4 linked regions of the Homo sapiens genome follow. The protein of the gene in region 4 purifies or fractionates together with the protein of the main gene of each other region. This does not show direct contact. Each region holds a gene or a part of one and is shown on either strand. Other genes may lie near its edges.

The links. The genes of interacting proteins can lie anywhere in the genome.
Region 1: the proteins of RNF145 (region 4) and NOL10 purify together in Homo sapiens (affinity purification with mass spectrometry; one large-scale study listed by BioGRID and IntAct). This does not show direct contact.
Region 2: the proteins of RNF145 (region 4) and ESF1 purify together in Homo sapiens (affinity purification with mass spectrometry; one large-scale study listed by BioGRID and IntAct). This does not show direct contact.
Region 3: the proteins of RNF145 (region 4) and UTP11 purify together in Homo sapiens (affinity purification with mass spectrometry; one large-scale study listed by BioGRID and IntAct). This does not show direct contact.

What each region holds. Positions count from the first base shown.
Region 1 is NC_000002.12:10,686,923-10,691,389, reverse strand, and holds the start of NOL10 (nucleolar protein 10), read left to right. Parts: upstream 1-1,414; 5' UTR 1,415-1,528; coding exon 1,529-1,594; intron 1,595-4,467.
Region 2 is NC_000020.11:13,713,572-13,716,372, forward strand, and holds the end of ESF1 (ESF1 homolog), read right to left. Parts: intron 1,597-2,801; coding exon 1,303-1,596; 3' UTR 754-1,302; downstream 1-753. UniProt on the Homo sapiens protein: May constitute a novel regulatory system for basal transcription. Negatively regulates ABT1.
Region 3 is NC_000001.11:38,022,734-38,025,573, reverse strand, and holds the end of UTP11 (probable U3 small nucleolar RNA-associated protein 11), read right to left. Parts: coding exon 2,765-2,840; intron 2,030-2,764; coding exon 1,946-2,029; 3' UTR 754-1,945; downstream 1-753. UniProt on the Homo sapiens protein: Part of the small subunit (SSU) processome, first precursor of the small eukaryotic ribosomal subunit.
Region 4 is NC_000005.10:159,161,054-159,165,060, forward strand, and holds part of RNF145 (RING finger protein 145), read right to left. Parts: intron 2,027-4,007; coding exon 1,879-2,026; intron 570-1,878; coding exon 213-569; intron 1-212. UniProt on the Homo sapiens protein: E3 ubiquitin ligase that catalyzes the direct transfer of ubiquitin from E2 ubiquitin-conjugating enzyme to a specific substrate.

The DNA.
Region 1 (4,467 bases), on a different chromosome or scaffold from region 4:
GCTAAATGTAAATATGTAGCAATGCCTAATAGAGGCCAGGCACTGTTCTGGTACTCTGGGTAGGGGTGGATGGGGTGGATAGGGAATATAAGGACAAATGATATAGGGTCCACGAAGAACTCTCAACCTAATTCTGATGCAATGTGGTGTTGGTATTTGAGAGTTTCCAAAATGTTGTGGGTAGGAGAGCAAAACAATAATATTTGGGTTTTAGAAAGTAAGGCATAAAATAATTTGTTCATTAAATCAAAGGAAGTAAGAAGATCACTTGGGAAAGTTATAATCCAAAAATAGTTAAGTATTTGAGTTTCAGCAGGAGGAATGAAAACAGATTACTTTAAGGAAATATTTCATAATTAGAAATATCCAGGTTTAGATACTGAAAGTGAGGGCCAGAGATAGGAATGGGTTGAAGATGACGCCACAGTCTTCTTTTTTTTTTTTTTTTTTTTTTGAGACGGAGTCTCACTCTGTTGCCCAGGCTGGACTGCAGTGGCACGATCTCAGCTGACGGCAACCTCTGCCTCCCGGGTTCAGGCGATTCCCCCACCTCAGCCTTCAGAGTAGCTGAGATTACAGGCGCGCGCCACCAGGCCCGACTGATTTTTGTATTTTTAGTAGAGACGGGGTTTCACCATCTTGGCTAGGCTGGTCTTGAACTCCTGACCTCAGGTGATCCGCCCGCCTCGGCCTCCCAAAGTGTTAGGATTACAGGCGTGAGCCACCGCACCCGGCCTACAGTACTTCTAACGTAACATCGCAGAAACACTGGAGGAGAGAAGAGAATACACTTCCACTCGGAATTCGCACCCTGGTCGCCTTCATTCGCTGGGTTCACTCGCTGAACTGCCTCGCCCCCGCCCGGGAGGATGACATCTCGGCCTGGGCAGAGACTCGAAAGCCTCCTCCTGCCGCTCGGGATGCTAACAGCAGGGAGAGCTGTGTCTAGTTTTTTTTTTTTTTTTTTTTTTTTTGAGAGGGAATCTCGCTCTGTCCCCCAGGCTGGAGTGCAGCGGCGCGATCTCAGCTCACTGCAACCTCCGCCTCCCAGGTTCAAGCAATTCTCCTGCCTCAACCTCCCGTGTAGCTGGGACTACAGATGCCGGCCACCACGCAAGGCTAATTTTTTTGTATTTTTAGTAGAGACGGGGTTTCACCATATTGGTCAGGCTGGTCTCGAACTCCCGACCTCAGGTGATCCGCCCGCCTCAGCCTCCCAAAGTGCTGGGATTACAGGCGTGAGCCACCGCGCCCGGCTTGTGTCTAGTCTTGCCCGTAGCAGCGTCGCCGACAGCCACGCCGGGTTGTCAGAGCCTCACTAGTTTTTCTCCCGGCCGCCGCTCTTCCCGGATTCAGCCACCTTCCCTCTTCCGGGAACTTGCCCGCGTGTTCCGGCTCCAGGAAGTGCGTCATCAGTCGGCGCCAGCGGCCGCACGCCGCGGAGCAGGGGCTCGGAGGTCCCGGGATTACGGTGCTCGAGCACGCTGGTGGGAAAGGACCCGGGACTTGAACAGTGTTGTGCGGCGCCATGCAGGTCTCCAGCCTCAATGAGGTGAAGATTTACAGCCTCAGCTGCGGCAAGTCCCTTCCTGAGGTGAGTCACTTCCCGGCCCCCTCACTCTCGAGCTCTTGGGGGTCGTCCTCCTCGTGGGGCAGCCGCCCCTCTCCTCGGCCCTAGCCTCTGTTTTAGCTGGACGCTGGTCACCCCCCGACTCGGGGAGGCCCAGAGGCGGCTGACAATTTCCGGGGGAGGTGTCGGCATTGGGAGACAAGGACACTGCCGTCACCGCGCCAGAAACTGGACCAAGGGATAATCAGGGTCAGTGAGCTTTGCTGGAACTTTTGTAAAGTTCTCTGTTCCAGAGAACGCAACCATTTGGGCCTCTTTGGGTGTTCACAGTCCCTGCCGTACATCGAGGAGGAAAACGTGGCAGATTCGTTGACACATCTCTCCCCCATATGGCCATCAGCTGTTTGTGGAGTCCCTATCATTTGCCAGGTCTTAGGGATACAACAGTGAACAAGGGAGATACAGACTTCGCATCTGCAGAATTTATGGTGTAGAGGACAGTATTTTCGAGACTTGTTGAACTTAACCTGATTCCTAGTCTTAAAGTTGGAGAGGGCTTGGACAAGTCGGTAATTCTCTTCCAATCTTCTCGTGTTTAGTAATGCAGCTGAGATTTAATAATGCGTTTAATATGCAGCTGAGATCCAGCAAGGGGAAGGGTGACTTGTCCAGCATGACACACTTAGGCTCTGAAACTTGTCTTTTGTTTCTTATACGTGATGATCCAGCCTCTGTCCAAGCACTACCACTGAGCACTACCTTTTGTGGAAGCTCATTTCCATTTTGAGACTCTGCACTTGTTAGAAAGTGGTTTTCAAATATGTCACCTTATAGCATGCCACTGTTGGCCTGAGTCCTGCCCTTGGAAAACAGAATAAATATAGCTCTCCTTCCATGCGTCTGCTTCTACAAAAATTTGGAGCCAGTGCTTAGGTTTTTCCTTTCTTCCTAAAATTCTGGTTTGAATAATTCCCTGTCTTCCAGTTGTTCTTCACACCCCATGAGCTTTCTCATTTTGTTCATTCATTCTCCACATGTATTGAGAAGTTACTGTGTGCAAGCAACTCTGTTTTAAGTATTGGGATCTATAGTGGACATTTCAGATAAGGTTCCCTGTTGGGGAAAAGGGAAATAAACAAGTGAGCAAATAAGGCAATTTAAGGTAGTCAAAAAGTACTTTTCGTGGTGAATGATTAGAAGAGAGCTGTTTTGGATAAAATATTGAGAGAAAGTGTTTTGGATAAAACCTTCGGGGAAGGCCTCTCTACAAGAGGTGACATATGAGCAGAAACTTGGATGATGAAGAGGAGCCAGTCGTGTGAAGATGTGGGGAAGAGTTTTCAGTGCTGAGAACAGAAAGTGCAAAAGCCCCACATGGGAATGCACTGGACATGTAGGAGGACGGAAGAGGCACAGGTGTGATTGCACTATGCTGAGTGAGGGGGCGAGAGCAGGGTGGATGAGGCTGGAGAGGTAGGCCTGGTAGGAAAGGTAGGAAGTTCAAGTTTTATTCTTAGTGCTGCTGGAAGTCACTGTTGTGTGGGCTGCTGTGCGACAAATGTCTAGCTGGGGAGGGTTCAAGTCGGGATGAATTAGGTAGTCCAGGTGAGCGACTTCGGTGGCTTGGGCTTGCCTGGTAACAAAGAAGATGCTAAAACACAGTGAGATTCAGGACATACTTTGTAGATAGGGTAATGGAACTTGCTAATGGATTGGACTGTTGGTAGAGGGAAGTTGAGGTGACAAAAAGGAAGGAATCAGAGAACTCTTCAGTTTTGAGTCTGAACAAGTGGGTGCACGGTGGTGCTGCTAACTGACATGGAGAAGAATCAAGAAGGAACACATTGAAAGGTGGAGAGGAGGAACGTAGTGAGCAAAAAGAATCAAGATTTTTTTTTGAGGTCGCGTGCAATGGCCTGATGTTGGCTCACTGCAACCTCTCGGGTTCAAGCGATTCTCCTGCCTCAGCCTCCCCAGTAGCTGGGACTACAGGCACGTGCCACCACACCAGCTAATTTTTGTATTTTTAGTAGAGACGGAGTTTCACTATGTTGGCCGGTATGGTCTCGATCTGATCTTGTGATCCACCCACCTCGGCCTCCCAAAGTGCTGGGATTACAGGCATGAGCCACTGCACCCGGCCCAAGGTTTTTATTTTCAATAGTGAACATTTGAAGTTCTAATACATACCAAATGGAGATGTTGAGTAGTTAGCAGTTGCATGGATACTAGGATGGAGATTGCAGGTGAATTTACTGTCGTTATTTGGGACTAGGTGAGATCAAATTGTGAGAGAAAGAACAGAGAAGATAACTAGGCTGAGGACCTGAGGCAGTCTTAGCATTTGTCATCCAAGAAGAGGAGGGGAACCCAGCAAAGAAGAAAGAGTAGTGGGCACTGATGGAAGGGGAGACTGGGAAATGTGTAGTTTTGTAGAAGTAAGTGTTTCAAGGAGGAGGTGGTGGTCACCTGTGTCAGCTGCTACTGAGAGCTTCAGTAAGATGAAGGCAGAAAAATGACCATCGACTTTGGCATGATGCAGAGCGCCCTTGACCTTGGCAAGGAGCTCCAGTGGAGTGGTGGGGAGGGTAGCTTGAGCTGAGTGGATTTGGAAACCCCTGCTTGTCCTGTTTAATATTTTCTGGTTATTTCTTTGAGGTGTGGTGCCTAAACTACACGTGGAACCCCAGTTGTTGTCTGATCTGTGCAAATATTGCTTCTCTCCTTCTGGGCTTTACCTTTTTATTAATGTAGAGAAGCCTCTACGTTTACTCCCCTGGTGATCCTAGGCAGTCTCCTGGCTTTAAGCACATCTGCATATCGATAACTATCACATTGATGTTTCTAGCCCTTACCTCTACTCTGAACTGGACTTGTGTATCCAACTGTTTCTTGAC
Region 2 (2,801 bases), on a different chromosome or scaffold from region 4:
TTTGTAGTTTCGGTAGAGATGGGGGGTCTCACTGTGTTGGCCAGCCTGGTCTTGAACTCCTGACCTCAAGTGATGTGCCTGCCTCAGTCTCCCAAAGTGGGGGGATTACAGGCGTAGGCTACCACACCCAGCCTATGGTCTTACTATATTGCCCAGGTTGGTCTCAAAACTCCTGGCCTCAAGCAATTCTCCTGCCTCAGCCTCCCAAAGTGCTGGGATTACAGGTGAGAGCCACCTTGCCTGGTCAGTAGGTTTGATTTTTAATACCCCAAATGTCAAGTTTAACCACAAACCTGGTCAAATTCCTGTTGTCTTTCAGAAGTTACCATATTTATAATTTGCTCCAAGTTACAAGTCTGGTTTTATTTACATTTACTTATACAGCATATCTAATTTGACTGTCAGTTGTCTATAATATTTAGACCAGATGAGATCCAAGAGTGTTAAGGCCTTAAAGATGTGTTTTAATTTTAAGAAGAATTAAGGTATCCTTAAACTCTACAGCAGCATATCCATCCTTCTAAAGTATTCCAAAAATGTGAAGGACAGACAGAAGACTTTTCTGTTGCTACCAAACAGAAAAACCACTGGAGAGCTCATGAATATTTCAAATGCAATTTACGAGCAATGCAACTCTAGAACTGCCTTTAAATGGAGTTGTCCTCTTAAAAAGTTAAAATCGGTTTTCAGATATTTTTCCAGAGAGTACTTTGAGATGCATAAAATGGAATAAATCAGTGCTATACAAAATAATGAAAATATTTTACACTTTTATTTACAAGTTAATTTCATAAACTATACTTAACATGACTAAACAACAAAAAGTTCTTGACTTCCATCCTTTATGGCTAGAAAAATAAATTATTTTAATAGTTATTTAAACATGCCTCCTGCTTCCAGAGAAATTAATGTATTAAATATATATATTTTTCAAATTATCCCTAACATTTACACAAACTTGAGTAGATACTGCTCTATTTTTACACAGAATTGTAAACAGCCTTTTAAAAAGCTAGAGTAACTTTCCACTAGTTAGAACTGAACATTGTAAAATATAAAAATTTTATAAACCCTATAATGCAGGTAATTTAATTATGACTGATCTGTAGGAATATACAATAAAAATTTGTCAGTCATCCACAATTAAGTACAATTATTTATGGAGAAAAATTTTACTATGTCCAGAAAAAGATTTTATTCATGTTCTTGAAAGATAGCTTTGTTCCCAATAAATATTCCCTCCTATTATTTTTGTACATTTTAGGAAAAGATGTATTCAGTTCAAAAATAAGTAACATCCAGTTATTTGACTTTTTGCTTTTTTCTTGCTTGAAACTGCTCTGTTTTGGTTTTTATAGATTTAATCAACATTGACAAAGCAGGATCAATGGACTTCCTTTGTGATTCCTTTTCAATCTCACTCTCTTTTTTCTTTATTGCCTGAGTAAGTTCTTGTTCTTTCCGTTCTCTTTGCCGGGCCTTCTCCTCAAGGATTTTTTCCATAGCTTTTGTTTTCTTGAAATTGGGATCTGAGGGGTCCAAATTGAACAAGTGGGAAGTGTACATTGCCTGAAACCGTGCATCGTTAACATTTACCTGCAAATCCAAAAAAAAAAAAAATTAATAAATTAATTAAACAAAATTACTAAAGCAAAAGGCCAGAAATGGGGCCAAATTTCGAAAGTTGGTGAGTTGATTATATAAAATACAAACCTGAGTGTTTGTACTGATTCATTAGGAAACTGTTTTTCCATAGCTCTTTATGGCCTACCTTTGGACCACAACTTGTGGGGCACCCTGTTCTTATCATGCAAGGACAATGTATTTCAAAGGGAATTATAGTGGGCCATACATATACATATTATGGCCGGTAACTACAACGACCACTTAGACAAAATGACTGTAGCAGTGGTTTGTGAGGCAGGGCTTTCCCATGCTTACAGCACAAAATCAATTTCTTACCAGCATAAATAAGCCAATCAGAACATCTGCTGGAGGCCCTGAACTCTGAGTACATGTTAAGAAATTTTAATCTTGGTGCCAAAATAAGGAACTATTGAAGGTGATCCATGGATCAAAAGATTTAAAGACCACTATGGCAAATAATCCATCTGAGATCAAGGTCTGGTCAGACACAAGCCCCAGATTTATCTTCTTTCTATAAAAACTTGTGGTTCCATGTTTAAGAATATACCCTTAACTGCAGCCAGCCTTTGAGGGCTGCCAGGCAGATGGGTAACCAGCAGAAAGGGAAACACACGAAATACAAGTCCACCTGGAGATAGATTGTAGCTTTACTTAGTTATCACGAGGCCAAGGGATTTGATACCCAGAACAAGGAAAAAAATCCTGTAAAAAATACTTTTATGCATATATTAATATATGAAGGCAGAATGACTACAAATCATTCTTTGCTTTTCATAAGGAAAGTAACTCAATAAAAACCTAACTGGAATGGGAGCATATGTGAAACTGACTCAAACAACAGAAGCTACAGAGTAGCCCCCAAATCCTTCTATATGCTACTTAGAAGCCATCTGTATGCTACCCTCCATTGTTTGAACAAATTTAAAATTTCCCAAATTTCCCCCATCTTACTCAGGGTCAGTTCTTCCACATTAATGGTTGGAAGTCATTAAGCAGTTTCTAACAGCTGTTTGTAGATTTTTGGTAGACGGCTCAAACTCATGCTTAGGGGACTCTGCAGCCATTAGGAATATGTACTCAACAAAAAGAGGAAGGAGTAATGGAAACAAAAAACACAGCAACTGAAAAAACATGGCTTACTGCGCTGGCCACTG
Region 3 (2,840 bases), on a different chromosome or scaffold from region 4:
TGATCCTCAAGTCTCTAAAACTTTCAGCATTGACTGAGCTCAGCACCTCCCCAGAAGGGAGTGCATACACACAATGGGAAGCATTTCCTTCCTGAAGGCAAAACCTACTGGTTTCTGTTTCCTGACCCTTCTTGCTGTTTTCCAGGGCCCCTGATTTAAATTCCACTGGGTACACCCTGAGGAAACAGGCTTCTAGTCTAGGCTTGTACAGGAAGCTCACAGTCATGGGCACTTATTAAGCATTAACAATTTTCTTTTAAAGCCTTACAATCCACACATGGCTGTTCTCCCTCCTTGGTGTAAGGGCTACGCAAGCCCCCCAGAACCCCGCTCCCTGTTCTCCCATGTTTGCTCTAAGCATGTTCAGTCCTGTCCTTACTGTCCTTGGCCTATAATCCTGATATGGGCAAACAAAGGAAGGAGAGAACCAGAGAAGAGAAAGAAGCTGGCCAACACACCCAGGGGTCCATATTCCCAGAGTGAAGGTCTGCACCAAGCTATTCTAGCCTTGGAATTGTGAGTTGGCATGGAGTGCAGAGGACAGAGACACAGCCAGGCCTATACTGATTTGAGCTTCATCAATAAGGAAGAGGTGCTCCCGTAGGTTCCTTGTTCCAAGAGTTTCTATCTGCAGCTGTTAAGTAAGAGAAAAAAATTCCTCCTTGGATAATTTATGAAGCCACCTGAATAGCCAATAAAAGAAGAATGAGTGAGGGTAAAATCAGTCTATCCACTAGATAAAACACTATGCAATCATTAAAAATAATATTTATTTTAACGTTTACTCTAGCATATATTACTGTAAAAAACTTTTGTGATGTAACAAACTGGGAAAGAGCTAATGATTTAATTAAAAAGTAGGACATCGGCCGGGCGCGGTGGCTCACGCCTGTAATCCCAGCACTTTGGGAGGCCGAGGCGGGTGGATCATGAGGTCAGGAGATCGAGACCATCCTGGCTAACAAGGTGAAACCCCGTCTCTACTAAAAAAATACAAAAAAAAATTAGCCAGGCGCGGTGGCGGGCGCCTGTAGTCCCAGCTACTCGGGAGGCTGAGGCAGGAGAATGGCGTGAACCCGGGAAGCGGAGCTTGCAGTGAGCCGAGATTGCGCCACTGCAGTCCGCAGTCCGGCCTGGGCGACAGAGCGAGACTCCGTCTCAAAAAAAAAAAAAAAAAAAGTAGGACATCAAATTGTTTACTGTAACTATAAAACACAAAAACATGGACAAAAAGTGATGCCTCGTTTTACAAAATGGAGGAAATCAACTAGACTACTCACAGTAATTGTCCACCTCCACAGCTCTAGCTCCTAGCACAGTTAAGCATGCAATAAATATTTGTTATTATTGAATAAGCACTGGGATTAGGAATGAATTAATCTACTTTCCAAATCTGCTGTAATGAGATCCTATGTTTCATAACAAAAAAAATTATGGGCTGGGCATAGTGGCTCATCCCTGTAATCCCAGCCCTTTGGGAGGCCAAGGTGGGAGGATCGCTTGAGGCCACGAGTTCAAAACCAGCCTGGCCAACATGGCAAAACCTGGTCTCTACAGAAAATTTAAACATTACTCAGACATGGTGGCACATGTCTGTGGTCCCAGCTACTCAAGAGGCTGATGCAGGAAGATCACTTGAGCCCAGGAGTTCAAAGTTGCAGTGAGCCATAATCACACACTGCACTTCCAGCCTGGCAACAAAGACCCTATCTCAAAGAAAAAAAAAATTAAGTATATAAAAATAAGACTAATTTCACAATCCAAAAACAATTACAGAAGGGAGGGAGATTTAATGTTGTCCATAGAAAGACATTAAATGTCAGACTGACAATTTAGTTATGGTTACAAACCGGAAAACCATGCCATTTGGAGTAATGGAATTTGAAGTTACTAGAAAACGACAACAGATTTTTGATACAGAATGACAAGGCTTATCTATAACACGTCAACGTTTTCGACGACTCTGAAATTTATAAATAGCTGGGGAGTTCACCGTTTCTTTCTTCACCTTCACTTTCTGAGTTTTATCCTACAAAAGAGTAAAAAGGTGATCAGTAAAGAGAAGGAAATGGTTTTGTAAAATCGAAAGGTTAATAAACTACCTATTAGCACCTGCTTCAGCCCTTCTCAAAGTTGAGAACGGACACAGCCCTACTGCCCAAGGCATCCACTGTAGGCAATGAATTAACTTCTCCCCTAGGCATCTAGAAAGTACTAGCTGTGTACAGTCCTAGGAAAACTGAGAAGAAAGGTGTTCAAGTAGTTGTTTCATTTAAAATTATAATTTTAATTCTCTCACGGAACCCCAGTTGAGAAAGGCTGACCTAAATGATCTACAAAGCTAAAGAATTTGACATTTAGAGGAATGATAAGAATATGAAAGAGGCATCTTATATTCCTCAGCTCTGCTATTTAACTACACAATGTTGTCTATTTTTAAACACCAATGAGTGACATGCACTGTTTTGTTAACCTGTTTAAATGTTACGGGAGCTGCTCATAAGCTATAAAGTTCATATGCTACCCGATCCTACCCTTTGCTGTTCCAAAGCACTGACTAATAACCCCCTTATTACCTCCTTAATCAAGGCGCATTTCAACACTGTCAGAGTAACAGACACTGGCTCAAACCACTGCCCCTGAGGAGCAGACATTTTCACTGGGGTTGATTTACACACAGCTGAAATCTAGTCTGAGTTAAGACCTTTACAAGAAAGAAAAGGGGGAAAAAAAAAAAAAGAGGCCTAAGGCTCTCTCTCCTCACCATAAGATCTTTGCGTGTTTGAATTTTCTGAGCAATAACGAACAATTTCTTCTCTCGTTCAATCCGCTGTGTCAGG
Region 4 (4,007 bases):
ACATTAGAACCCAAGGGACTAAATTTAAAACTTAATTTAGAAATAAAATGGAAATATTTTATCAGGTCTTTAATATAATTTCTGAGGTCCATTTTTTTTAATCCAGAAGATAATTTTGCCTAGAAATTTAAGTTGAATTTGGTTAATATGGTTACAGTCCCAAGGGATACACTGTATGACTTACCCAAACACATTCTTATTGAAGGAGTTACCTGATAACAGATGGCACAAATATCATTGTGTTTCTCAAGCTGCTCTTTCGTAGCAATGGGTAACGATTTAATCTTATTCACAGCATCCCTGCGGAGAAGAAAGCTCTTCCACCCCAGCTGGGCCCGAAGCCACACGTTATAGTAGGAATGAATGAAGATGATCATTGAGCCCATCACTGTCCATTCTCCAAAGATGGTCTCTGAGACGCCATAGGCCACCACACAGAGGGCCACAAGAAACTCCAGCAGGCGGTAAGTGCCATTCACATAGTAGATGACATCATCCATGTTTTCCACTGGCTCTTTTCTGAATTCCTCAACCATAAATAAGACATAAATAAAAAGTGTTCCCAGAACCTGAAAAAAAAAAAAAAATGTACGTATCTTGAAATATGATCACTAAGATACTTTTTTCATAGGCTTTAAACAATAACACATTCCTGATGTTTTTAGGGTGCAATATTTCAAATATACAGAAGAGTATCCAGGGGAAAAAAAAGTTTTAATAAATAAAAAATCAACTCTAAAGAGAAGACACTGATGACTAAAATGTGGGTGATCTTAGTAATCCAGGCATAGAAAACAAAAAGCCACACCGTCAGACGTGACTTTCCTAAAATGATTCTGATGAGTAATCAATTTTTTGATTCATCTTTTTCCCTTATTCCTTAGGTCACCAAACCTCATCAACTCCATCTTAATTTTCCTCATACCATAGTCATTCCTGTTCTACAACTCGCAAAGAAGTTTTACTTCTGCAAAAAAATAATGAATAACTCTTCACTGTGTTATGTTTTCCTTTACCTAGGTAGCAAAGATCTTCCTTTAAGTTACAATAAGCTTATCATTTCTAGGGCAATATTTTGTGTGTGCATGTCTGTGAAACATGTATCATGTCTGTATGTGTGCAATACACACACATCATATACATATATATTTATATACATCGTGGAACTATTGGTATTTTTGAGTGGAATTTAAAAAACACACTCCAAATAAGCTCTAACACAAGCTCTAAAAACTTTTAATATTTTAGTTACTTGTCAATTTAAGATTTATATGACACCTCTGTATCATACCATTTTGAAAAAGAGAAACTGAAAGGCTTAATTACCTTCATAAAAAATACAGTGACATCAATAGGTTTATGTAATATTTTCTTTTTTTTTTTTTTTTTTTTGAGACGGAGTCTCGCTCTGTCGCCCAGGCCGGACTGCGGACTGCAGTGGCGCAATCTCGGCTCACTGCAAGCTCCGCTTCCCGGGTTTACGCCATTCTCCTGCCTCAGCCTCCCGAGTAGCTGGGACTACAGGCGCCCGCCACCGCGCCCGGCTAATTTTTTGTATTTTTAGTAGAGACGGGGTTTCACCTTGTTAGCCAGGATGGTCTCGATCTCCTGACCTCATGATCCACCCGCCTCGGCCTCCCAAAGTGCTGGGATTACAGGCGTGAGCCACCGCGCCCGGCCGGTTTATGTAATATTTTCATAACCTGCCATCTAACTCCTGTGCTCAAATAAATGTAATGTGTTCTAGTAAAGAGAGAGAGAAGTTATCACCTGAATAGTCCACTTATAATCATTCATCTTGAAAAAATTTAATTCCTCCTCTGGGAGGAAAAATAACAAAATTGGTTATTATATAGAGTTAATTAATCATAGGCTTACCTGAAGAGAGGTAAGAATGCTGCTGGAAATAATGATAAGAAGCCAAAAATCCATGTGGAAAAACTGGCAAATCATATAAGCCATATAAGCAGGGAATACCAATAAAAATAAACAAAGGCTTACAGCACGGAAGTGTTTCCACAAGCTCCTGGAGAAAGACAAAATTATTCTTTTTAAGTGCCTGCCACCTAGTAGCACAACCACTCACATCAGCAGCTAACATCTCTGGTGCCATGATCAAATTTCACAAATTCCCACTGAACACCCTTCTCCATGCCAGTCACTGTACTAGAGTTCAGACCAAGTCACACAGGCTTGGCATGTCAAAGCCACCACACTCAGTCAATTGCAAAGTACAGCTGATTTTCTTTTGTTCCTCAATAGTTTGCTTTCAATTGCTACTCCTAGCAATTTCAAATTATTTCAGGCTTTTGTAGCCTTAAACCTTAACAATTTCAATAATTTTTCCTGGTTAAGACAGGGAGGGAGTATTAGAATAATTTGTGGTCTTTTTCAAATCTTATGACACCCTCTTCCCACTGTTTCCACTTGTGATGAGAATCTCTGCTACAGAGAGTGCAGTGTGACTAATAGGAATGACTCTCCAATGAGCAGGTATACTCATCCTCACATCTGTTGTGGTCAGGGTAAGTGGGAGACATGACTGAGAGCAACTGTATTGTAAGATCTACTACCTGGTTTTCCTCCCTCCTCCAGCCCTGATCTATCCAGGACACTGCCAGCCAGACTAATCCTCCTAAAGCTCTACTATCGTAATATTTTCAACACTGTCTCTAAATTTTTGAGCCTGGCATTTGAGGTCCTCCACTCCTAATTTTTCCATCCAAGCTTGTCAAATCTGTTCCTCATAAACCAAGCTGCTTATTAACTAACTGCCCTCTCAGCAAAACACAAGCACTCTTACGTCCCACTAGAAATTCCTCCATCATGCTCTCCATTTCTCTAAACCCTTTAGGCTAGTTCAAGCTAAACAACTTTGGCTTTCAATTGAAATAAAGCTCATGGCTACAAAAAAATTTAAGCTGTTTTAATTAAACATCAACATCTGTGATATGTTCTCAAATCCAAGTAAAGCATCTCAAAGAGACACAAATAACATAAATCATCTCTCCTACCTTTAATTATAATATAGTCAGGAAGTAAAAGTTACCACACACAAGGTCAAATGCTATACAGTGTGGTCCTATTATAATCAGTAATTCAGAGAAGAAAGTTAATTATTATGGTAAAAATTAAAGCTGCATACTTTGGAAAGTGTTTTACATTTTTTCTTGCCAAAAACTAATAATAATAATAATAATAATCAGAAATTAAGGAACAAATGTAAACTTGTCAGTAGCTTTGCTTTGAGATTCAGCAATTTTAACTTTTTAAAGAAAGGCAGTAGCTGTACTGTGTTAGATGATGAATTATAGATCTAATAGGGCAATCTGCCTTAAAACCTTAAATATATTTTTTAAAAATCAAGCCAGCTATGATTTATATGAAATATGTACGTATTTATAAACACACATGCATAGATTTAAGCACACACACAGAAATGTATATACAACAATGTTATGTCAAGAGTTTTACATTTATGCCTAATTTTAATACAGGTGGATATATACACACAAACATATACATAGACACACATATATGTCCTTATCTAAATAGTTAAAATTAAATAAAAGCAAATTTCAAATAAAATATAAAAATAAGGGAAAATTACATTGAAACCTCGTGCAATAGGTTAAGTACTATAAAAATGACAACCCATTTCCTAAAATGTTTGCCTTTTGAAAATTTGCTACATAATTTGAATAAGTAGACCATAGTTCTAATATTCCTTGTTAAAAACTGCAATAAAATTTACAGATAAAATAACCAATTATTTCTATGGCTAAAACTAACTCACACATCCTCCTAAGCTAAACGTGGAAATTACCTACAGTTCAAGCAACTCCAAAGACGTATTTATGAAGATTTTCCCTTTAACAATTATTTCATTAATAGAAAAGTTGTTTCATGAACTATTAGTATCATCTCTTAATTGTCCTCTAACTTGAGAATTAGGACGCTTTTCCTTTCCTTTTTTAATTCCCAGTACACTGAATTGAATTCATCAC